Homo sapiens: one gene and its partners. The protein of the gene in region 4 purifies or fractionates together with the protein of the main gene of each other region. This does not show direct contact. Each region holds a gene or a part of one and is shown on either strand. Other genes may lie near its edges.

Evidence for each region.
Region 1: the proteins of RALB (region 4) and ALDH18A1 purify together in Homo sapiens (affinity purification with mass spectrometry; 2 studies listed by BioGRID and IntAct, with this or other methods). This does not show direct contact.
Region 2: the proteins of RALB (region 4) and PAM purify together in Homo sapiens (affinity purification with mass spectrometry; 2 studies listed by BioGRID and IntAct, with this or other methods). This does not show direct contact.
Region 3: the proteins of RALB (region 4) and TPP2 purify together in Homo sapiens (affinity purification with mass spectrometry; 2 studies listed by BioGRID and IntAct, with this or other methods). This does not show direct contact.

The regions. Positions count from the first base shown.
Region 1 is NC_000010.11:95,611,696-95,618,736, forward strand, and holds part of ALDH18A1 (delta-1-pyrroline-5-carboxylate synthase), read right to left. Parts: intron 4,920-7,041; coding exon 4,782-4,919; intron 2,467-4,781; coding exon 2,271-2,466; intron 2,169-2,270; coding exon 2,047-2,168; intron 1-2,046. UniProt on the Homo sapiens protein: Bifunctional enzyme that converts glutamate to glutamate 5-semialdehyde, an intermediate in the biosynthesis of proline, ornithine and arginine.
Region 2 is NC_000005.10:103,024,287-103,030,239, forward strand, and holds the end of PAM (peptidyl-glycine alpha-amidating monooxygenase isoform e preproprotein), read left to right. Parts: intron 1-844; coding exon 845-1,048; intron 1,049-3,895; coding exon of another isoform or gene 3,896-3,898; coding exon 3,899-3,952; intron 3,953-4,600; coding exon 4,601-4,779; 3' UTR 4,780-5,430; downstream 5,431-5,953. UniProt on the Homo sapiens protein: Bifunctional enzyme that catalyzes amidation of the C-terminus of proteins. Alpha-amidation is present at the C-terminus of many endocrine hormones and neuropeptides and is required for their activity.
Region 3 is NC_000013.11:102,676,956-102,680,469, reverse strand, and holds the end of TPP2 (tripeptidyl-peptidase 2), read right to left. Parts: intron 2,244-3,514; coding exon 2,154-2,243; 3' UTR 512-2,153; downstream 1-511. UniProt on the Homo sapiens protein: Cytosolic tripeptidyl-peptidase that releases N-terminal tripeptides from polypeptides and is a component of the proteolytic cascade acting downstream of the 26S proteasome in the ubiquitin-proteasome pathway.
Region 4 is NC_000002.12:120,248,960-120,255,857, reverse strand, and holds the start of RALB (ras-related protein Ral-B), read right to left. Parts: upstream 3,007-6,898; 5' UTR 2,878-3,006; intron 2,801-2,877; exon of another isoform or gene 2,127-2,800; intron 1-2,126. UniProt on the Homo sapiens protein: Multifunctional GTPase involved in a variety of cellular processes including gene expression, cell migration, cell proliferation, oncogenic transformation and membrane trafficking.

The DNA of each region.
Region 1 (7,041 bases), on a different chromosome or scaffold from region 4:
GCATGGTGGCTCACGCCTGTAATCCCAGTACTTTGGGAGGCTGAGACGGGTGGATAACTTGAGGTCAGGAGTTCAAAAACCAACCTGGCCAACATGGTGAAACCCCGTCTTTACTAAAAAAATTAGCAGGGCATGGTGGCAGGTGCCTGTAATCTCAGCTACTTGGGAGGTTCAAGCAGGAGGAGAACTGCTTGAACCTGGAAGGCAGAGGTTGCAGTGAGCCAAGATTGTGCCACTGCACTCCAGCCTGGGGCACAGAGCAAGACTCCGTCTCAAAGAAAAAAAAAAGAATAAAAAAGAATGTGCAAGGCGTTTAGTGGGTTATCAACACAAGGGCTTGACTTCTGGCATTTTCCTAAAATGAATACTTGACAATAAAGATCCCAGTTCCTGCATATGGTACCTAGGCACTAGACTCGTGTGGAAAAAGGGAGGTGCCACATATACATTGCTACTCCCTGTACCCTAGCGAAGTCCCAGGTTTGCTTTAGAGGTAAGCAGTACTTGGTCAGGTGCTTTCAGCACCTGAAACTGTGGCTACTCATTTGATTTCCAACTGCGTCAGTCTGGCCCCACCTCTAGGTTCAGCTCAGCCCCAGGCTCTGGCTCTAATCCTGCTGCTGGTTAGAGGAATTTAAGGATTCTGAGGCTGGTCACCGAGGATCCCAATCACAAGCTGGATCCCACTTAAACCTTGTTTTCTGAGACATCCCCAGGACAGGGTTCATGCCTTGATTCTTTGGGATCAAGCTTTTGCCTTGGCTCAAGTTATAAGTGGTGTCTGCCTTATCCTCATGATTCCCGAGGCCCTGCCATTGTTTCTTATCTGGGATCTCACTTCTTCTGTGTTCCTTGGGGACTGGAACCCCATCCCTGTGCAAGTCATCCTTCTAGCTTTACTTTCTGCCATCCAAAAGTGCTGTATGAAGTACACACAGTGACTCATTTTGATTTGGAATTTCAAGGCCATCCTCATTTTAATGACTGAGGATACCACTTGTGTGTTCAAATTAGGTCTGGGGAGGGATTTAGTCCTGGCTAAAGGAGAGCTTTCCTCCTGTCTAATCCAGTTCACTGTGGTGCTTGGCAAACACAGGTGCCCAATCAACAGGCTTCCTTACCAAAGTAAAGTAAGGTCCCCGAACATGAATGACCATGTGATCTAACTTCCTTGTAATCCATGGAGTACAGTTTCATTTTTAAAACAATTCTTTCCAGTTCTCACTGGGACCATGCCACATTTATAAGCTAACTGGAGCCTTCCTTTCCAGTCAAAGGATGGAAGGGAAGAGACATATGTTCAGAGTCAAAGCAACCAAGGCCAACAAGCACCTTCTCTACTGCCATGCTGGTTTATATAACTCTGAAAGTGTACTATGACATCAGAAATTAAAGCTTAAAATGCATCCATGCAGAGAGTTTAACAGATTGTCCATTTTTGCCTTGAGGGCATCTATTATATTTTCTTGCAGGCATGAATTTAGGACACAGCACAACTTTATATTTGAAACTTACTGGCTTTTGGTTTGTTTACAACCTTAACAATATAGTAAAAACATAATCCAGGGAGACATTCTACAAATTACTGAATCCCAAATATCACTGCATTAAGTACACTAATATTGGTAACCAAAGACACTGGGGGGAGGCAGTGAATGTACATAAGTTTTTGGTTTGAAACGTTTCTGCACCATCTTTTCAAATCAAATCCAAAAAATAATATATGCTTGGGAACACCTTGCATATATAAGGTTGCCAGAAACAGTTCAGTCAGCATAGTGCCATGTGGTCTGTCTTACCTTTGAACCCTCTTTAGCACACAACACATTCCACTTTGTAATAAAGCTATTTGTGTATTGGTTTGGTTCGACTACTAGAGGGCAGGGGTTGTGTTTTACTCACACTTTACTTAGCATGGAACTTTGTACACAGAAGATATTAAAAAATATTGTTTCTTAAACTGCCTTATATGGTATGGCTGTGCCTGGTCTAATTCCACAGGCTTCTAAGACAGGAAGTAATGTACTAGTCCTATGGAACTCTTACCTGTTCCACTCTCAGCATATCAATGATCTGGTCAAATAATGGTGTCCTGAGCAGATCCCGGTGGATTAACAAAGTCTCCAAAGCATTACAGGCAGCTGGATATTCACATTTAGAGTCTCTGACTGAAAGAAGATGAGCAAAGAATTGTTTCCATTGACATGATCCAGAGCTGCAGAGGATGTAATATTTCTCCGTTGTGAAAGAGAAGACCCCATCCAGCTCACCTAGCCTGGTGACCTTATCAACACTGGCCTCGGAATCCACATACATGTGACAGATCCCTTCGCTGTGCCCCATCACTGGAATCCCCTTAGCAGCTTTCTGGATGTCTCTGACCAGCTGGGAAGAGCCACGTGGAATGATCAGATCTATCATTTTGTCTAGGCGGCAAAGATCTTCAACTTCTTCTCTGGTATTCACCTTTAGAAGGAAAGAAGAAAAAGATAAAGATGACATCTGACCACACAAAATATAAAAACAGCAGCTTCCCTTTTACAGATAAACATCTGTACACTCTGAGAACTAAGTGAGACACTGTGAAAACTTATTCTAAAAACAAAATTAAGTTCCCGATCATGGGAATCAAAAAGTTGTCCAGCAAATGCTTATCAAACACTATATACTCGGTGCTGTGCTCCACATCACATATCACGCAGGACACTGCATGCCGTCAAAGAGCTCAGCATCAAGTAGGGAAGGCAGCACTAGGGTACTGCTAGCCATAATACAGGGCAGACAATTTTTAAAATGCCAGAAGCAGCACAAAGGGGTATCTATGGAGGTTAAATGCAGTACACTACTCCAGGCCATGAAGATCACAAAAGGGAGTGGCTTCTCTGTTGGTTTTCTATTCACAGCATTGAGGAAATGTTGGGTTGGTCTTGCTAGGGAGTCATGGTTCTCATGACTTCTGATGGCAACTTCTACCCTGGGATGTGGATTAGAATGACTTAAAGAGCCTGTGAGAGGATACTGAGATTATGGGCATTTTGTTTTCTCTTGATTTTTAATTTTTCTCCACATGGTCATATTACTTTTATAACAAATATATATGTGTGCCAGAATGTTCACAGCAACTTTATTCCACATAGCCCAAAACTGGAAACAATCTAAATATTCATCAAGAGAAGAAAAGATGAACTGTAGTATATGCAGGTAAATGGAACACTACCCAGCAATTAAATGAGAAAACTACTGCTAGATGCAACAATGGGAATGAATGCCACAGACATAACGAACAAATGACAGGCAACATAAACGTGTGTTTTGTTTGATCTCATTTATATAAATTTCAAGAATAGGCAAAAGGCAGGGCGTGGTGGCACATTCCCAGCACTTTGGGAGGCTGAGGCAGGCAGATTGCCTGAGCTCAGGAGTTTGAGAGCAGCCTGGGCAACATGGTGAAACCCTGTCTCTACAAAAAACAAAAAATCCACAAAAGTTAGTCAGGTCTGGAGGCACACACCTGTAGTCCCAACTACTAGGAAAGCTGAGGTGGGTGGACTGCTTGAGCCTAGGAGGCTGAGGCTGCAGTGAGCCGAGAGCCAAGATTGTGCCACTGAATTCCAGTCTGGGCAACAGAGCAAGACCATGTCTCAAAAAAAAAAAAAAAGGCAAAAGTAATTTAATGTGACAGAAGTCAAAAAAGTAGTTTGTGGGGAAGGGGGCTACATATTGACTGGGAAGGGCACAAGGGGGCCCTCCAGGATGTTGGACTGTTCTGTATCTTGATACGGCTGGTGGTTATACATGTGTGTGTGTGAACAGTCGCAGAGTGGTTCACAGGATCTGTATACTTTACTGTACGTATGTTACACATCAATAGGAAGAAAAGGAGGGAGGGCACCTGTGTAAGCTAGGAAGTGGTGGGGCTGGGATTTGAATCCCTAAAATCTGCGCTCTTTCCAACCACTATGTGGGCATAAGAAAAAAACCAGATTCTGGTCACTGAGTGTGTAATGAGCAGGTTTGTAGACATCCTCCCAGTAGCCAACAGAATCCTGGAATGTTGGAGCAAATGAGCCAAAGAAAAAAAAGGATCTGGAGTCAGCCTAGGTCCAAATCTAAACTCTATCACACACCATGTGACTCTTGGGGAATTACTTTACCTCTGAATCTGTTTTTTCCCAATGTAGAAAATGAGTCTAATAATTAATGATATTTTCCTTATGGGACTGCTGTGACGATCAAATGAGTTAACGGATAAAATGAGCCTTGCACATAGTAGGTACTCAACAAGTAGTAGCTATTATTATCAAACTTCATTTGACAGTTGAGGAGAATGAGAAATGGTCAGTTAAAGTGATGACCTTAATAATAATAGTGATAACAGCATGATCTCATACTCAACACACCGCATGACAGTTTATGACAAACTTTTGTAAAGTTTCTCATCTGACTTACCCTAGATCACTCTGCCAATGACAGGAACCTAGGCCTCACACTCTAGTTCTGGTACTCCTGCTGCCTTGTGACCCAAAGAATGAAGGTCTAATTGACATTCTTGTAAATAAATAGTGCCAAGACGCAGCTGTAAGGGAGGGGCCTTCCTAAGCCACTGAGGACCCATCTGGCTCTGCAGAATGGCCTAAAGTCTGAAGGCTCACAGGCCTGCTGGAGTGTCAAGTCTGCTTGTAGTAGTGTCTTGGCTCTGTGTGGCCTAAGTTTTGCTTTAAATTCCCAAACACCTGATCTGGCCCCTCTGGGCCTGACTTGGTGCATTCCCAGGGACCTACCAGTTGCACGGCCTCCTTGACTCCATGGATTGAGAGAGCCTCCTGGGTCAGGAGGTGGAGAATCCGGTTGCTGTGTGCAGCCTCCTTCCCTCCTTTGAGTAACAAGCCATTGCCACTTGCGATAGCCAAAGCTGCCACCTGCAGATCAAAGGGAGAGCAGTGGATCAAAGGAGACAAACAGTAATAGCAACAGTGATGTTAGCATTCACAAGCACTCCTTCTGTGCTAAGCACTGTGTTCATCATTTTAGAAGGCCTATGCTGTTTCATCTTCACAACACTGCAGTGAATTAAGTGCCTGTTTTATCCCCTACTTTACAGATAAGGGCACTGAAGCCCAGAGAGGCTGATGACTCCCCGAAGTCACACAGCTTATAAATAACAGGGATGGGAGCCAGACTGAGGTGGTTTGACTCCAGAACAAACCACTGGATTTTAGCAACTAAACTATATGGCTTCCTTAGCACCATTAGCAAAGAGAACTGAGTTGGCCAGGTATGGTGGCTCACGCCTGTAATCTCAGCAATTTGGGAGGCTGAGGTGGGTGGATCACCTGAGGTCAGGAGTTCGATACCAGCCTGACCAACATGGTGAAACCCCATCTCTACTATAAATACAAAAATTAGCCGGGCATGGTGGCAGGTGCCTGTAGTCCCAGCTACCCAGGAGGCTGAGGCAAGAGACTTTCTTGAGCCTGGGAGGCGGAGGCTGCAGTCAGCCGAGATTGCACCACTTCACTCCAGCCTGGGCAACAGAGTGAGACTCCGTCGCAAACAAACAAATAAAGCAAAGAGAACTGAGTTAAGTGGCCAGGGCCACATGGCACCCCCCACCGTGGAGAACAGGGTCTTCAGCCACCTCTGTAAGGAAGCACTTGCTTCATCTGATCAGGCTGAGGCTGGGCAGCTCCTCTGGCCACATCCTACTCTGGCCTTGGAATTGTTCTGAGAGCTCTAAGTGCTTGGTGCTAAGAACCTGGAGAAGACCAGAGCTCCTGCCAGCCCCTGGGCAGCTGTGGTAGAGACTGCTGAGAACAGAGTCTTTTTCCCACATGCCTGTCTGGGGAGGAAAACGTAAACCATCCAGGAGGAGGGCTAGTTGCCTTGTTAGAGCAAAGAGTGAGTGACACTGACCTGATCATCCTACCTCTTACAAAAGTTAAGTAAACTTTCTCCAGACATAAACACACAGAATATTGCACACAATTTTTAGGATTCATGGATTCTGTGAAACCATCCAGGGCTGAGTCCAGATGAGGAGCCTTAGCTGTAGTTAGCTAATGAGGTATCAGCTCCTTGTGAGGTATCAGCTGGTATGGATGAGTGGTAGCAAAGAAATTTCACGGATACAGTCCACAGAGAGACTTAGGCCCATTTCTACTAGCAGAGGTGAGTCTGGCAGTCATCACTGGGGCATTTCTGCAAGACAGGTATGTGGCCAGAGAGGTAGTGTGCCAGCATCAGCCAGGGACTGAGGATAGGCCTCAGTGGTATGGGAGTCCCTTGGTGAACACACTGGTTTTAGGGGATGTCAGAGAGTACCCTTCACAGAGCATTCCAGATTCCACAGTCAACTATGTCTTATAGTAAAGAGGTGCTAGTTTTTTGTTTTTACAGTAGAATTTCCCTTTGAGACTTTGGGGCTAGTGCAAAGGAAGAGCTGGTATCCTATAGGACAGTCCAGTGGGGGAAATGCTCCCAGAATTCTGGGAGGCAGTTTAGGGTAATAAAGTGGGGCCACTCTCTAATGACACCTTGTATTTCCCAGCATGGCTGCTTGGCAAGAACTTTAACGCATGCTTTCTCAACCAGAGGCTGTGATATGTCAACTTGCTTAAAGAGGGTTGCATTCTTTTCTCTTTTTTGAGATGGTATCTCGCCCTGTTGCAAGGCTGGAATGCAGTGGCACGATCTCGACTCACTGCAACCTCTGCCTCCTGGGTTCAAGTGATTCCCCTGTCTCAGCCTCCTGAGTAGCTGGGACTACAGGTCCCACCATGCCAACTAATTTTGTATTTTTTAGTAGAGACAAGGTTTCACCATGTTGGCCAGGATGGTCTCAATCTCTTGACCTCGTGATTCACCTGCCTGGGCCTCCCAAAGTGCTGGGATTACAGGTGTCAGCCACTGTGCCTGGCCGACAGTTGCATTCTAATTTCCATTAACTACTGAAAGTTCTTTTTCCTAACAGATGTACTTATAGGAAGCCATCAGTGATACTGACAATAAAGGGGTCCTTTTCACATGGGCCAAGCCAGTTAT
Region 2 (5,953 bases), on a different chromosome or scaffold from region 4:
AGATCACTGCAGCAGCTTATATAGTTTCATTGCATCAATTTCCCAAACAGTACTTTAGGCTTGATACCTACCCAGTACCTGCCAATGTTACAGAATAGTTTTAGTTATTATAATAGTTGTTCTTTTCATCAGTAACAAAAGGATATACAGTTCATCTGTCTGTACTCACATTTTGCTGAAAACAATATAAAAGAGCCTGAAAAGCACATAGTTCCTTTTTTCTTTTGTAATCCTAGCATTAATGTGTGCAGCTGTCCATGTGAAATACCAAAAATTAATTGAACATGAAAAATATTTTTAAACTAAAGATACAAGGAAACAAACACTTATTATATACATTTTTTATGACAGACATTTACACCCAACAGTTTTATGAAGGAGGTCCTATTATTACAGTTTTATAGATGAAGTTACTGTGGCCCAGATAATTTAAGTAACTTGCCCAAAGTTATACGGCTAGTATATAGGAGAATTGGGATTTGTACCCAGGTTTGTTTGATTCCAGTATGCACACCAGTTCTTTCCCCTACACAGTACTGTCTTATTAATTTTACCTTTGGAAAAATACAAAAGGATATATATTCTGTGGAATTATAGCTAAAGAGCATATTAAAAGTAGAACAAAAGAAAACTAATTTGAAGGTGAAAAACCATTCAGTGGAAATAACTAATCACAATGCCTGCTGCCAGTTTGGTAGATTCAGGTATTAAAACATGAAACCCCTGTACACTGGAGTCAACAAGTTCTTTGTGAACAGTTATTGATTTGACTGGGTAGGGGTGGGTAAGGGGGTTTTGAAATCTTTGAGTCAGTTGAATATTGTGAACTCTTCTTTCCCTGAAGAAGCCGAGGCAGTTGTTGAAACCAAAATGGAGAACAAACCCACCTCCTCAGAATTGCAGAAGATGCAAGAGAAACAGAAACTGATCAAAGAGCCAGGCTCGGGAGTGCCTGTTGTTCTCATTACAACCCTTCTGGTTATTCCGGTGGTTGTCCTGCTGGCCATTGCCATATTTATTCGGTGGAAAAAATCAAGGGCCTTTGGAGGCAAGTAAAATGAGCCCCGTGAACTTGGAACCTGCCTTTGAAAGAGTGTTTGGCCTAATTATCCTCAGGAGTTTGATTGGGATTTTTTTCACTGTATTTGTTTTTTTGTTTTTAATGCTCTCTACCATTTTTGACATTATTGTCTATGTTCCAAATATTGCCCCTAGTTAATATCACAGTACAAAATAGTATCTGGAGACTCTGAAATTTGGATAGTTAGATTAAAATATAACCTTTAATACTATCTTTTAGCAATTGGCTTAAGTCCAATTAATGAGTCCATACGAAATTGTAGGTAGTAGAGTCAGTATAAATTAGCTGAAGGATCAGAGGAGGAGATACCTGCTGTTAGGAAGAGGCCCAGTCCTCAAAGTACCTGGGTCAGTTTTTCAGGTTGTGTTTTTCTCCCATTAGGCTCCTAGCTACATGACCATGGGCAAGTTACTTAATCTCTCCAGACCAGTTTTCTCATAAAAAAGTGGGGATAAAATAGTTACCTTACAAGGTTGTACAAAGATGAAATAATGTACATAAGCATTTATCAGGATACCTGGAACCTAGGAAGTACTCAATACCACCAATGGTTATGATGAATAATCATTGGTAATAAAGTAACAAAAGGCATAAGAAGTTATAAAAAACACTTGTCTTAAACCTTAGTTTTCAAGAAAAATTAATTCTATAACAAACCATTTGATAGTTTTTGAATAGTCATAATTTAGCTCATCAGCCTTCCATAACTGAACAAGGCAGAGTCCAATACCAGAGTTAGTATTTTATGAAATCATTATCACAATATAGGATCCAAGAGCTGAGTTTATTTTAGGACATCTAAATAAATAAACAACCCAATTCATGTTTCTTACCGCTCAGTAGCAGTCCCTTGGCTGGGTCCCCAGGTCCTAGAGCAAGTCTATAGCTGTGTGTGGGAAGAAATCCATGGATCAGGGAGAGGGGGAGCATTTGATCAAGAAACAGCATCTGATCCTATTTCAGGTCAAGGCAGCCATGGCAGGGATTCAGTGCCCTTGGCAAAGCCCTGACACAGAAAAAGGCATGGAAACAGAAAACAGAAAATTCAGTTTAATATGTTGTAAAAGGGAATTTTTATTAGACTTTATTTTGCTTTTCATGTGCCATCAATAAATCTCTATAAAAATATAGTTAACTCTTCCCAAAAAGGATTTCTATTAAGTCCATGTTACAGATCTGGAACTGTCATAAGTAGGGGCAAAGAGAAATAAACATAGTCATTGTCTTCATGGTGTTATATAGATGCTTCAAAAGAGCAAGAATCCATATCTTGAGTACTGATATGTCCCCAGCACAAATAATAGTTTCTGATACTAGTGGTTTAATAAATTGTTGTTGAAAGAATGAATGAATAAATCAACCGAGCTCACAGAATAGATAACATATGAAAGAGACATGAAACAAAAAAGTTATAGTAGAGGGTGGTAAGTGCAGTGATAAATACACAGAGTAGTAGGAACAGTGGGGCCTAGGGGAAGGTGGCAGGAATTGTGGTAACCAACCCAATCTGGCAGAAGCAGTGGCTAGGGAATAAGGAAGATTTGGTCTCTCCTGTTTGTTGTTAAGCACATGTGACACAGCACTGTTACATGATGCTGACTTTACAGGAATGTGTTAGGAAGGTAGAGACCCAGGTAGAACCCTAGAAAATTGCCATTATTTGACCGTGTTTTACTTAGAAAAATTGCAGTTTCATATGTAGTAGTAGTAGATCAGCTTCTCACTTTTTTTCTGAATTTGTTCTTGATAGATCTTATCCAGTCTAAGGTTATTAAAAACCCTAATGGACCTTCCATTTATTCATCATTCCTTATTATGTATTGACTCCATATCAGACACTGTGCTAGGCACATGGGGATACAAAACTAAGGAATGTCCTTGCAGAACTTACAATCTAATTTGTTGGCTTTCTAACAGTCTTACCAGATTCTTCTTCCCTTCTTGCCTATTTCTTTCCACATCACTGTCTTCTCCCTTTCCTCTCATCTGCGCTATCTTTTTCCATGATGCTGACTTCAGTCCTGGTTAAAGACCTAACAGGACAACCCCAGGCCTGACTTTCCTGACCATAGCCCTTGAGGGAGTGATGAAGCCTGGGAAATAGTACAGGGAGAGACACAGCAAGGGAAAAAATGAAACCCATTGGGAGTTCTGTCTCCCCATAAGGAAAGAGAGTCTGTCCTTTATGGAGATAGGCAGTCCTGTTGGGAACATTTAGGTCACCTACTATGCTTGGAAAATACTCAGGGTGTCATGTGCTTTCCCTTCACTTATGTCTTACATAAAGAAGAAACGATATACATGGATCCAAAGCTTTCTCAAGCAAGATACGTACTGTCAGTAGAAAGAGTAAAGCTGAAGGCAAATATCCCTAAATTGTCATAACCAAAGATGGAAAAATTTTATAAATTATTAATAACATTTCCTGATTAAAAAAATAGCTATGATTTATTGAGCATTTACTGTATATCTATAGGTAGTGTTCTAAATGTGTCACATGCAGTGTCTGATCTCAGCCTTACAGACAGGGATTCTCCTTGACCTTTCTTTTGTCAGAGGAGAAAACTGAAGCTCAGAGAAGTAATTTATCAAGACTGCACAGCCAGTAAGAGACACGGGCAGGAGTCAAACCCAGCTTGGGCCCTTTATGTATGTCTCAGAAATATACCGCCTTTCTTAAAAATTAGAATTGCATACAGACAAGAGCCAGGCCTTGCTTTATCATTTACCAGTTCCTATTTTAAGTTGGAAGTTGAGTGCATGGGTTGAGAAAGATGACTGGGACTCATTTTGAAATGTGCCATCTTTTTTTAGCAGATTCTGAACACAAACTCGAGACGAGTTCAGGAAGAGTACTGGGAAGATTTAGAGGTATGCCTATGACCTTTTAGAACCCTTCATGTTTGGTTCAAAGTCAACAAGCACATGTCTTTTAAAAAGCAAGGAGATATTTCATATTTTGTCTCTGAAGATAAAGCACCTTGTATGCAGCTTAGCATCTCCCAGAGTAAATACAGAATGCACACCATAAACTAAACTGAAGTGCATGGGTCTGGCAGCAGATTTCCCAGTTTTATTTTTCCCATTCTGCATTATCTAATTCTCTTCCCCTGCCTTTTACCTGGCTTCATTTGTCTTCAGCAAATTTTCTGTCACTCCTGTTGGCATGTCAATGTTTGTCATAGTAAAGATGACCTTTTCTTAAAGTCATTGAAATGAGGAGCTGCTCCAGGGAGGCTAGTTCTGGATAGAGAGCTAGAGAAAAGCAGGAGGTGAAAGTGAATATGAAATATTCCTGCAGAAATACATAATACTTGGGAGCTTTTGTTTTTCTTCTTTAATAGTAGCATCTATATGGCTCTGTAGGATACGTCTCTGTCTGTTTTTCTATTTTATTTTTAAATAAAATAATCTCCCCTTTCCCATCCCCACCTTCTGACTTTATCATTTAAGAATTTACAAGGTAACAGACATTGCTGCAAACTTTACCCAATTCTGTTATTGTTTGCTTTTTTTCAGGAAAGGGAAGTGGAGGCTTAAACCTTGGTAATTTCTTTGCAAGCCGTAAGGGCTACAGTCGAAAAGGGTTTGACCGGCTTAGCACTGAGGGCAGTGACCAAGAGAAAGAGGATGATGGAAGTGAATCAGAAGAGGAGTATTCAGCACCTCTGCCTGCGCTCGCACCTTCCTCCTCCTGAAAACCAAGCTTTGATTTAGATTGAGTAAGATTTACCCAGAATGTCAGATTCCTTTCCCTTTAGCACGTTTAAAGTTCTGTGTATTTAATTGTAAACTGTACTAGTCTGTGTGGGACTGTACACACTTTATTTACTTCGTTTTGGTTAAGTTGGCTTCTGTTTCTAGTTGAGGAGTTTCCTAAAAGTTCATAACAGTGCCATTGTCTTTATATGAACATAGACTAGAGAAACCGTCCTCTTTTTCCATCATAATTCTAATCTAACAATGGAAGATTTGCCCATTTACACTTTTGAGACTTTTTGGTGGATGTAAATAACCCCATTCTTTGCTTGAACACAGTATTTTCCCAATAGCACTTTCATTGCCAGTGTCTTTCTTTGGTGCCTTTCCTGTTCAGCATTCTTAGCCTGTGGCAGTAAAGAGAAACTTTGTGCTACATGACGACAAAGCTGCTAAATCTCCTATTTTTTTAAAATCACTAACATTATATTGCAATGAAGGAAATAAAAAAGTCTCTATTTAAATTCTTTTTTAAATTTTCTTCAGTTGGTGTGTTTTTGGGATGTCTTATTTTTAGATGGTTACACTGTTAGAACACTATTTTCAGAATCTGAATGTAATTTGTGTAATAAAGTGTTTTCAGAGCATTAGCTGTCAGTGTATTTTCCAGTTTTTGCGTATTTGCAGATTTTACATACAACTTTTATAATAATTACACAAACCCACAAATATTAGTGAAACTTACTCGATGTCTTCAACTAAAAGAAATGTGTGTATTGTACAAAATTTAGAAGATACTTTAGCCAATATAAATTAAAAACCAGCCTGAGTTTACATAAATTTGTAAAGTCAGGCTCTTCTAAAATCCAAAGAGGGTTTTTGCCTATATATCAATCAGAGGATAAATACTTTAATAAAAGGTAATCACAGCTAAGTGGATACCTGTGTCTCAAATTACATATGCAAATGATCCATCAGTAGGGATCACTAATAATAGTTTTCCTTTTAAAAAATAATTTCAGGGCAGGTACAGTGGCTCAAGCCTATACTTCCAGGACTTTGGGAGGCCAAGCAGAAGGATTGTGGGAGGCCAAGCAGAAGGATTGTTTGAGCCCAGAAATTCAAGGCTGCAGTGAGCTATGATCAATCCACTGTACTCCAGCCTAGGCTACA
Region 3 (3,514 bases), on a different chromosome or scaffold from region 4:
TGAGATTTGTGGTGCCTAAGAAGAGAAGCAGGTGGGGCTCTTCTGCGGTAAAGAGAAGTTCTCCCAGAAAGCATGCTAACATGAGGAAGGAAAGAAATCCCATGAGATGGCAAAACTCCTCCCAGTAACAATTGAGAACTGCCTCTTATTATTGGAAAGGGGCCACAGAACCAGTATTGAGCACATACCCTGTACTGTCTCTAATGGTTCTTTAAAAAGTTATTTTTACCTAGTTTTTTCAATTGTTTTCAGTGGGTGTGCAAACATTGGCTACTGTGACCAGAAACAGGAAAACTGCTTGACTTTTTGAAGTACCATCCTACTGTTTGTATTATTTTTAATGTAATCACATAGAAACAGTAATGATTTTACTGAGAACATCTTCTAGAGCTTACTTGGGTCCACTTGTCACCACAGAAATGCAGAATGAACCAGACAGGAAACAGGAGCTAACATGGCAGCTTTGTATAACTGCCTCCAGTTACAGGAGTCACAAATGAATAGGCATGGCTCTGTTCCAATAAAACTTTATTTACAAAAACAGGCAGCAGTCCAGTTTGGGTTAAAGGGCCAAACGTTACTGATTCCTGCTGTAGGTAGTACTTACCTGAAATAGCAAAACCTGGGTTGTAAAGCAAGGTCTGTAATTAATTTCCAACAGTTGATCAGCCGTATAACCTTGGGAAGTCATCCTACCTTTACTGAGCTTCTCCATTCTCTTACTGGACTAAACCTATACAAATGGGGACCTGTATGTGTGTGCAGGTGAAAGTCCATGAGTGTGTGAGAGAGAACATGCATGTAGCTTTCATGGATAGACTTTGGACCCTAGCTAGCCCAGAAGGTGTGACCAATATGCTTATACATGTATTTATGTTTCTCATAAACGCTCTAACACTTCATGAGATACAGCAGAAACAGTTGGGAGTGACTAAGGATTACTGGTAGTAATTTTAAGCAGCAGTAAATCTTAAGAGAACAAGATAAAAAAATCATACATACACACAATTTGCCATTAGATAAGGGACTGTAAACTTTTCAATACTACTTTTGTCTGTTTATTTGGTGGAGGAATGACGAGAGATGCACGTGCAGTAGCCAAAGATAAAAATAATAAAAAGTTAGATATGCACAAAAGTTAATCATACAAGAACTGGAAATACATTCAAATAATTGTAAGCCTATAAGAAACACTGTAAAATAGATTATCTTATGTTTAACTTTTTTTGTCTATGTATTTAATGTATTATTTCTGTTATAACCCCAAATTTTATTTATGAAAAATTAAGACCAACTTTAAGAAGCTTCAATATTCACTTTTATTATTTATAAAAAAAAATTAAGGTACCAGAGTGCATATGGTGTACTGTGATCTTGGTTTTGCAAATTTATTCATGTGTTTTACATTATTTCAATTTTAATAAACATATCATATGTGTATCTTTACAATACCTGATAAAGATTCAGCTGTCTGGCACTTACACATGTATTCATAGAGTTCATTCTGATGCTCTGAACCTCAAGAGGATGTGAAAATGACTTGCCTGTAATTACCCCAAGATGAAGATTTATTGAAGCAGTTATGCTCCAGCAACTGCCACTCATTTGTGCTGGTTCTACTTTTTCCCCTTAATTGAATGTAAACATTTGCCAAAAAAAAAAAAAAAAAAAAAAAATTCTGGAAATGAAGTTCTGTTAGTTTTTAGTCCAATAAATAATTTTAGCTACGCTTAATGTAGCTTTTTTAAGGCCTTCATACAATTGAAAAAAATTAAAGTTGAGCACGTTAAAACCCTGTTCATTTATAAAATAAAAAATAGTACTTTATAGGTTTGCAGTTAAAAGTTACCTTCCAAAACCTATCATGCATGTCATAAGCTGCAACCCAACTCGAAGTCCTAGGTGCTGGCAGGCAGGGCACATCCCCGTGCCAGCAATGTGAGGCATTAAGAAAACACCATGATGTCAGAGGTCTAGATTTACATGTATTAAGCCACACGTCAGTGAATTCTCTGATAAATACATGTCATTTTAATAATCAGTACTGGATAGTGGATGAAAACATGCATTAGACTAAAAATGCCACAAATTTGTTTTTATACCCATTCACTATAAAACTTCCTTTTTTAAAATTTAAAGTCTTGTTTCCTATTTTAGAATACGCAATAATCGGGAGGATACATGATGGGGAGCCAGTTTTCAGTAAAAGATGCACAATGGGTCCATCCAAGTAACTTCATCAGCTACAACAAAATACAATAATATATTATTATAAAGGAAGTGACAGATTTTTAAGCTCAGTATTTAGAATAAATTCTGTATTAAATAGTAACAGTAAGGTAGTAGCATATAGAACCTTCCTTCCACCAACCGTCACCCACCCATTGATCCTCCTTCCCACCAACCAACTTTTCTTACTATCAACCAACTTTCCTACCAACCAACCTATTGTTCTCATCATTATCCCTACCAACTGTCCTTTTCCCTCTTTCCTATTAACCTGTGTTCCTCCCTTCTTCCTTCCAACTTACTTGTTCCTTTCCTTCCTACCAACCTAAGTTCCTTTCATTCATTTTTTCTGAGTAACTATCATGTCAAACACTGGGAAAACAGCACTGAACAAATTCACCTCCCACTTTCAGGAAAAGCAAATAATAAGCAAATTAATAAATGAATAAACAAGTAATAAGATATTTATCAGGTGTACAGTAGAAATAATATTTGACACAATATAAACTAACTGGGGAGTTAGATGGTTAAGAAAGGATCTCTATGGAGGTGATACTCCAGTTGAGTTTGAATGACAAGAAATCTGTGCGAAAATCTGGGAAAGACATTCCATCCAGCCAGAGTAGTTAGTGCTAAGGTCCTTTGGTAGGAAAAGGTGTGGCTGTTTGTGCTAAGCAGAGATGCTGGTGTGGCAGAAGCAGAGTTTGTATGGGCAAGTGTGATATGAAATAAGTCTGGAGAGGTAGGCAGGGGCCTTATGGACCACTGGGGAGAGTTTGGATTTTATTCCAAATGTGATGGAGATTCAACAGCAGGTGTCAAAAGGCATCTTTTCCAGCTGCTGTGTGGAGAACAGGCAGCGGGGGGGGCAGAGTGGAGGGCAGACAAGTTAAGAAACACTCCCTGATGTGAACGTCGGCAGGGATCACTGGCTTTACAAACCTAAGTGCTCACGGATCAGATTCCACATGATGAGAACCACATTAGACATATCAACACCTGGCTCCAGAAAGAGTTCTCTTAATCTAGTCAAAGATCTGGAGGAGCTAATTTAAAATGTCTTACAATTTGGACTGACTGGTGAAGGTAAACAAAAAGCTCTAAGAGTAAATATGAATATAGCTTACTCTAATTATCAAACATTTTCAGAGGAACCTACTGATCAGTTTTACATCCAAAGGGTACCTTACATATAAAGTATAATTAACCTGGACTTGCCCTTTAGCTGAATCTGGCACCACCAAACTCCCCTGCCTTCACGTATCCTTTAGGCATAAACCAATTA
Region 4 (6,898 bases):
TAATTATCAATTAATGGCATTTTTCTTTTCTGCATTTAGATTTCAACTAAAAAACAACTAGCCACCATCACCAAAAACAAAAACAGCCAGGAGAACACTAAGGAAAATTATAAGCAGCTACTTTTTTTAAAGTGACAAACTTGAAATTGAGACCTGGCTAGAATTTTGCAATTGCTTCTAGTAAGCACATATACCGTCCCTCTTTGACACTCACTTCCACATCCTCTTCATCTTTCTTTCCACTGTCACCTATCCAAGACTCATCAACCCTCTTGCCTACTGGCCCCTCTGCTTTTTGGAATATCTAAGAATATATGTACACATACACCAATATTTATATTCCTAGGTACCAAAAGAACTGAGGAGCTAAAGGAGACAGCCCATGGTCAAATCTCCAAGGCCACATATTTAACTGGTATGGCTTGGATCAGTGGTCTGTGCCAAGCAGACAGCTGATGCTCAGTAACTGTTAGTTTTTCTCCTCCTTAACTACTCCGCCATGTGATGAAGGAAGAGTTCCTTTTCCTCTGTGCTCGGCTCTCTTTGCGATAACATTCAGAACATACATTCATTTAAAAAAACAAAACGAAAAAAAAACCAAGCGTCTTGCATGTCTAGAGCAGGGGCTGTTTAGCAGTAACTGGAGCCAAGGAAAAGTGGGACTCCTGTATACCATCTGGAGACAAGTTACACTGGAAAACTACAGAGTTCACCTAGATCTCTTCGCACTCTAGTCTTACATTGTCTCCAAATTTAGCTTTCAAGAAAGGTCTCTAATGATGTTTCTAACTTCCATAAGTTACATGAGGGGGGTAAGAATTTAGCAACTAAATGCAAAGAGGCATAGTAGGATTACGTGATTTGGAAGAAAGAATTATCCCTGCCAGACGGGGTGGCTCACACCTGTGATCCCCAGCACTTTGAGAGGCCAAGGTGGTAGGATGGCTTGAGCCCAGCAGTTCGAGACCAGCCTGGGCAACATGGTGAAACCCCATCTCTACAAAAAATACAAAAATTAGCTTGGCATGGTGGTGCAAGACTGTACCAAGCTACTCGGGAGGCTGAGGTGGGAGACTCACCTGAGCCTGGGAGGTGGGGGCTGCAGTGAGCGGTGATCACACCACTCCACTCCAGCCTGGGAAATAGCGCAAGACTCTGCCCCCAAAAACAAACAAAAAAAGGATTATCTCAATTCTCAGGCTTAAAATTTTTCATGGAATCTCAAGCCATCTTCAGTCAAGGCAAGAATTTAGAACTTTTCTACCCTCATCTTCTACCAAAATCTCTTCATATGCCGTGGAAGACTCTAAATCCTGTTTATCCTTATGGTCTAGGTCCCAAGTTCCCAAAAGATATCTAATAACTTACACTATTTTCCACACACAATCCTGGGAAAATGTTCTATTCCTCGGGCAGAGGGAAATCTGGCTGAGATCTCCGATAAGAGTGCTGTTTCCAATGGGAAGCAATGTGAATGGGCAAGGAAGGAAAGCCCCAGATGTGGTCAGAATAAAGCAGACCGGCTGACAACTAAAGCCACGCACAAAGGATATGTCTCCCTGGCCTTCTTCTCCCCCGCTCCTATTTCGTTTAATCCTAACAATTAGGATAACTATCATCACCCTTCTACAGTTGCTGACTCTGGAGCTCAGAGGGGGAAAGATCGTGCTCCACATCACAACACCGGTAAACTCTCAGAACCTGCATCAAACCCAGGTCTTCAAACTCACCCCTCCTGTTTTTCCCAATATGCAGTGCTACCTTTCATGGTCGGCCCATTTCTGGGAACTTCGATACTGTGCTTCTATTGCTCCAGGTTTAAGGAGCATTCTGAGCCTTGACCGGTTCTGAGCTTTGACATCCAACAATCTTATGGCTCTGCTTGGAACATCAGTCATTGACACCTCTAAAAGATTCACTATCCCCTCTGATACTCCATGCCCACCATCCATCCCCAAAACTTCAGAAGAAATGAGGTTAGGAAACCAGGACAGAGCAGAAAGTGCACTGTTCTACAAGGGCTGAAGATGAGTCACAGGTAACCCAGATGAGCAATCAGCCAAGTCTCTTCCACGGCCAATTCATTCAGTCCGCCAGGCACAAGCACTTCTCTCCCGAAGACTCACCTGATAAGAACACCAAAGTTCCAACGTTTCTCGTTGGAAATGAGCACAGAGAGGACACTGCTCACACAAGCAGTGTGGACGCAGCAAGCTCCGCGCCCCGCAACCCTGCACCGAGCACGGTTAACCTCACACTCCCACAGGCGGCAAGAACCGGGACGGCGATGCCCAGTCCAGGCGCTTCCCCTTAGAAGCCCCTTCGCCGCTGGCCCCTATCAGAAAGGAAAGGGGAGGAGGCTGGGGGAGAAACAACTTTATGCTCATTTGCAAGACAGGACCAAAACAAAACCAGCAAACCGAAGCCCTTTAGGAACACCGCCCAGTTCACGGCGCGTGCAAGTTCCGAGGGCAGTTAAGTTTTTGCAACACTTCCCAGCCCTGACCCTGCCCAAGCCGCGGCCGGAGGACTGAGGAAGTGGACGGTCCCGAGCGGGAGGCCCGCGGCAGGAAGTGGAAGCAGAGCCATCTGCGGGATAGGGAAGGAACCGCGGCTACAAGGGAGAGGCGGAGGCCGCCCCCACTTCCTCAGCCCCAGGCAGCCCAGGAAGCCGAGACTCCCCCAGGGAGTCCTCCCGGAGCGGAGCGGGGCCGCTGCCGGGGCGTCGCCCTCCGCCGGCCTCGGGGCGCGACATGTCCTGCCGCCGCCCGGCCACAGCCCGGCACGGAGGGAGCAAGAGGCTGCGGGCGTGCGGCGTACCCCACTCCCCAGCCCGCGCCCCACCCCGCCCGGGGCCCGCGGGCGCCGCGCCCTTACCAGGGACCAGTCCCGCCGCCTCCGCCGTCCGCACCCGGCCCGCAGCTCTTAAACGCGCCCCGCCCCCTCCCGGGGCCGGACCCCAGCCGTCCTCCACCGATTTGTCATTGAGCTGCCGGGCTCGCTTTCCCACCCCCCGAGCGCGCCTCCGGCGTCGCCTAGGCAACCCCTCCTCTCGAGAGCGCGCCCTCGCTTCCGTTCTTGCCCTCTCCTCGGAAGCCACGCCCGTCGGGGGGCTGTCAGCCAATCCGAGGCTGATTTTCCAAGCAGCGGGCGGCCGGGGAGGAGGTTTCACCAATGAGAAGCTGCCCCAGGCACGGGGGGGCGGGCCCAGCGCGCCTGCCCCGTCCCCCTCTGTTTCTCTCTCTGCCCCTCGGACACGCAGCTGGTAACCCTGCGGCAGTGGAGGAGCTGCCCGCCGGTATTGAGGGCGGGTGCGGGTGCACAAGGTGGGGCGCCAGTTGTGGGATTCAGGCCAGGGCTAGGACGAAGTAATGGAAAGCAAAAGCGAAGGACAGACCTGATCATACAGAAACAGAAGAAAATTACGAGGTGGCGAAGAGTGCTGGAGCGCGGCGATGGGGATGCCGCCCGGGGGTCTTGGGGCGGGACTCCACCTGCCGCCACCACTCGCTTCGCTGATGACATCCCATTAGCAGTAATGGAGTTAGTGAGTGCATGGCGGAGACTGGACCCAGGCCGCCTACAAGGGCCAGAATCCCACCCCAGCCATAGCCTCGAGGCAGGAAGTGCAGTGGGCAAGCTCCCTGCCAAAGCCCAGGAACGTGTGATTTTGTATCCAGTACAGCTTCATCTCGGTGGATTTTCCTTCCTAACCACCTCCTCCTCCACAGGTTTTGTGACCGTGCTGACCCCTACGCAGACCTCATGAGAGTCACAAGCCATCGCAACTGACAGTTTAAACGTCTGCCTCTTATCTCTAAGGGAGGGAACTATCTCTTATGCAATGTGATATCCATGGCTGCTAGCACAGTGTAATTAATTCTTTCATTGTTGATCATTGTAAGTTAGGATGCATGTGTATACTATATTGGAGGCTTTGGGCCATGATTAGATTGCTATGTATCTACCAGATCCAGTCCCTCCATCAGCATCTATATCAAAAAGCACAGAAGCTTTACCTTAGTCTTAAGTGACCAACTTAACAAAAAAGTGCAATCAGAAGAATATCCTAGTGTTAGCCTACTAAGTATTCTGTTTTTACCATTCTCATTCACATTTAAAACTTTTATTGAGTGCTAATCGTATGACAGACACTTTGCTAGGTACAGTAAGGAGATGGGGTAGGAGGCTTCTCAAAGAGGAAGCTCCCTAGTATTTATAACCTAGAAGAGGAATCAGACCCAAACCTTTTCTTACGGAGTAACAGTTAAGTGCACAGGTTTGGAGTCTGGAAGCATAGGATTAAAGGAGGGCTCTACCTTGTGACTAGCAGTTACTTAATTAGGAAACTACTTCTGTGGGCTTTAGTTTCACCAGCTGCCCAATAGCAGCACCTCCATGCTATAGGTAAGAAGATGTACATGCAAGTCCACATAGAGCTCTCAGTACAGTGCTAGGAACTTGGTGAGTGCCTCAGGAATGTGAGCTTACATTAGTGATTGCCACCAGAGGCCACGATGTACAGTCAAGTGTGTGATCACCAATCTGGTACAGCCTTATCTCCCAAAGCCCATCTGTATCAAGTGTGACCGCGTGCAGCCTGGTGGAAAGGGCCTGCTGTGGTGGTACCCTTTGTCAAATGCAAGTATAGAGAGGAGAGCAGCTGCAGCAGCCTACCCAAGTGAAAAGGGTATGATAGTTGAGGGAACAGGGTCAGAAATCAGGCCACAGGCCAGGATTCTACTGTTCCCACCTGCCCCCCATCCCCTAGGACCCACAGCAGATGCAGGAGGTTTCCCCACCTTTTCTGGGGTGCTGAAGTGCCATTCCTTTGCATTGGTAACAGGATGCACAGGGCTTTCTGAGAAATGCTGCTTTCATTCTCTGCCTGCCTAGAACTCGGAGGGGTCCTACTGGGACTCCTCCAGCAGGATCATCTATTCAGATCCTGGACATGCCAGACCCTGAGCTGTGCAGTATATTCAGAGAGGAGTGGCAGGACCCTTTTGGCGGGGCTGTCTCACACAGGACACCAATAGGGGAAACGTGTCCCAACGGGAGAAGGGAACCAAGAGGCCACCAGCCTCAGCTGCCTCTAAGGTGGCTCATTCCAGGTCTCAGGGGACCTCTTGTCTGCTGAGTTTCCCTACCAGAACTCTGACTCCCAGCAGAGCCAGGGGCTTGAGCAGCAGAAATACAAGATCCCCAGCAGGACTCCTTAAGGATGCTGTAAACGACTGCTGCCATGGAAAGAGCATTCTAGACACTCCATCCTTCTAAAGTATTTATTGATTACTGTGGGAGTCTTTAGTGCTGTCTGACAAACATTTCTACTCCTCTCTTGTGAGCACTGGAAACTTCCTAGCCCTGTAGTTGGGTGGAGCCATGTGACTAGCTCTAACCGATCACTTGTGAGCAGAAATGACACATAATCATTTCTAGGCTGGAGAAATTAATTGCCAATATAAGACCCTCCAGAGCTCTCTTGTCCTTGGTATGGCTACTGAGAATGTTAGGAAATGTGACTGCTCCATCAGCCAGGGTTTCTACAATGAGCACAGGCCCCCTACCAACCTGTGATGGACATTTAGAATGACTGAGAAATAAGCCCTTATGGTTTGAAGACACTACGATGTGGGAGTTGTTTGTTACTGCACATAGCTTAGCCTGCTCTGACGGATGCAAGGTGAACAACTCACACAAAAGGACAGAGAAGAGGCCAGTAAACAGACAAGCACCCCAAAAATTACAAATTATGTCATTACAAATTATTTTAGACTGGGTGGTCAAAAAAGATCTCTCTTGGGAAGTGACATTTAAGCTAGGACCTCAAGGATGAGAAAAATCAATCTTAGCAAAAGATGGGGGTAGGAGGAAGGACAGGAGAGTATTTCAGGCAGAGGCATAAGCCTGTGCAAAGTCCTGAGGCAGAAGAAAGCTTGGTACTGCTGAGAATGGCCAGGAGGCCTGGAATGGTGAGCAGGGGAAAGTGAGTCACACAGGGCTGGAAGGGGAGGCAAGAGCCAGATGATGCAGGGGCTTCTCGGTTATACAGAGGAGTTTGAAATTTACTCCTAGTGCGGTAGAAACTGCTGAAGAGGTTTGATATGGTTTGGATGTGTGTCCCCTCCAAATCTCATGTTGAAATGTAATCCCCACTGTTGGAGGCGGGGCCTGGTGGGGGGCTGTTTTGATCATAGGGACAGATCCCTCATGAATGGCTTAGTGCTACTCCTTGGCAATGAGTGAGTTCTTGCTCTGAGTTCACACAAGGTCTGGTTGTTTAAGAGTGCGTGGCACCTCCCCGCCTATTCTTATCCCCGCTCTCAGTATGAGATGCACCTGCTCCCACTATGCCTTCCGCCATGACTGGAAGCTTCCTGAAGCCTCCCCAGGAACAGATGCCAGTGCTATGCCTCCTGTACAGCCTACAGAAACATGAGCTAATTAATAATTAAGCCTCTTTTCTTTATCAATTACCCAGTCTCAGGTATTTCTTTATAGCAACACAAAATGGACTAACACGGACGGGCGCGGTGGCTCACGCCTGTAATTCCAGCACTTTAGGAGGTGAAGGTGGGTGGATCATGAGGTCAGGAGTTTGAGACCAGCCTGGCCAACATGGTGAAACCCCATCTCTACTAAAAATACAAAAAAATTAGCCAGGCGTGGTGGCAGATGCCTGTAATCCCAGCTACTCGGGAGGCTGAGAAGAGAGTTGCTTGAACCCAGGAGGCAGAAGTTGCAGTGAGCCAAGATCATGCCACTGCACTCCAGCCTGGGCAACAGAGCAAGACTCCGTCTTAAAAAAAAAAAAAAAAAAGACTAACACAAGGTTCAAACAGGAGGCTGACATGCTTTGATTTTGGTTTTAAAAAGATTACTCTGGGTCAGGCAT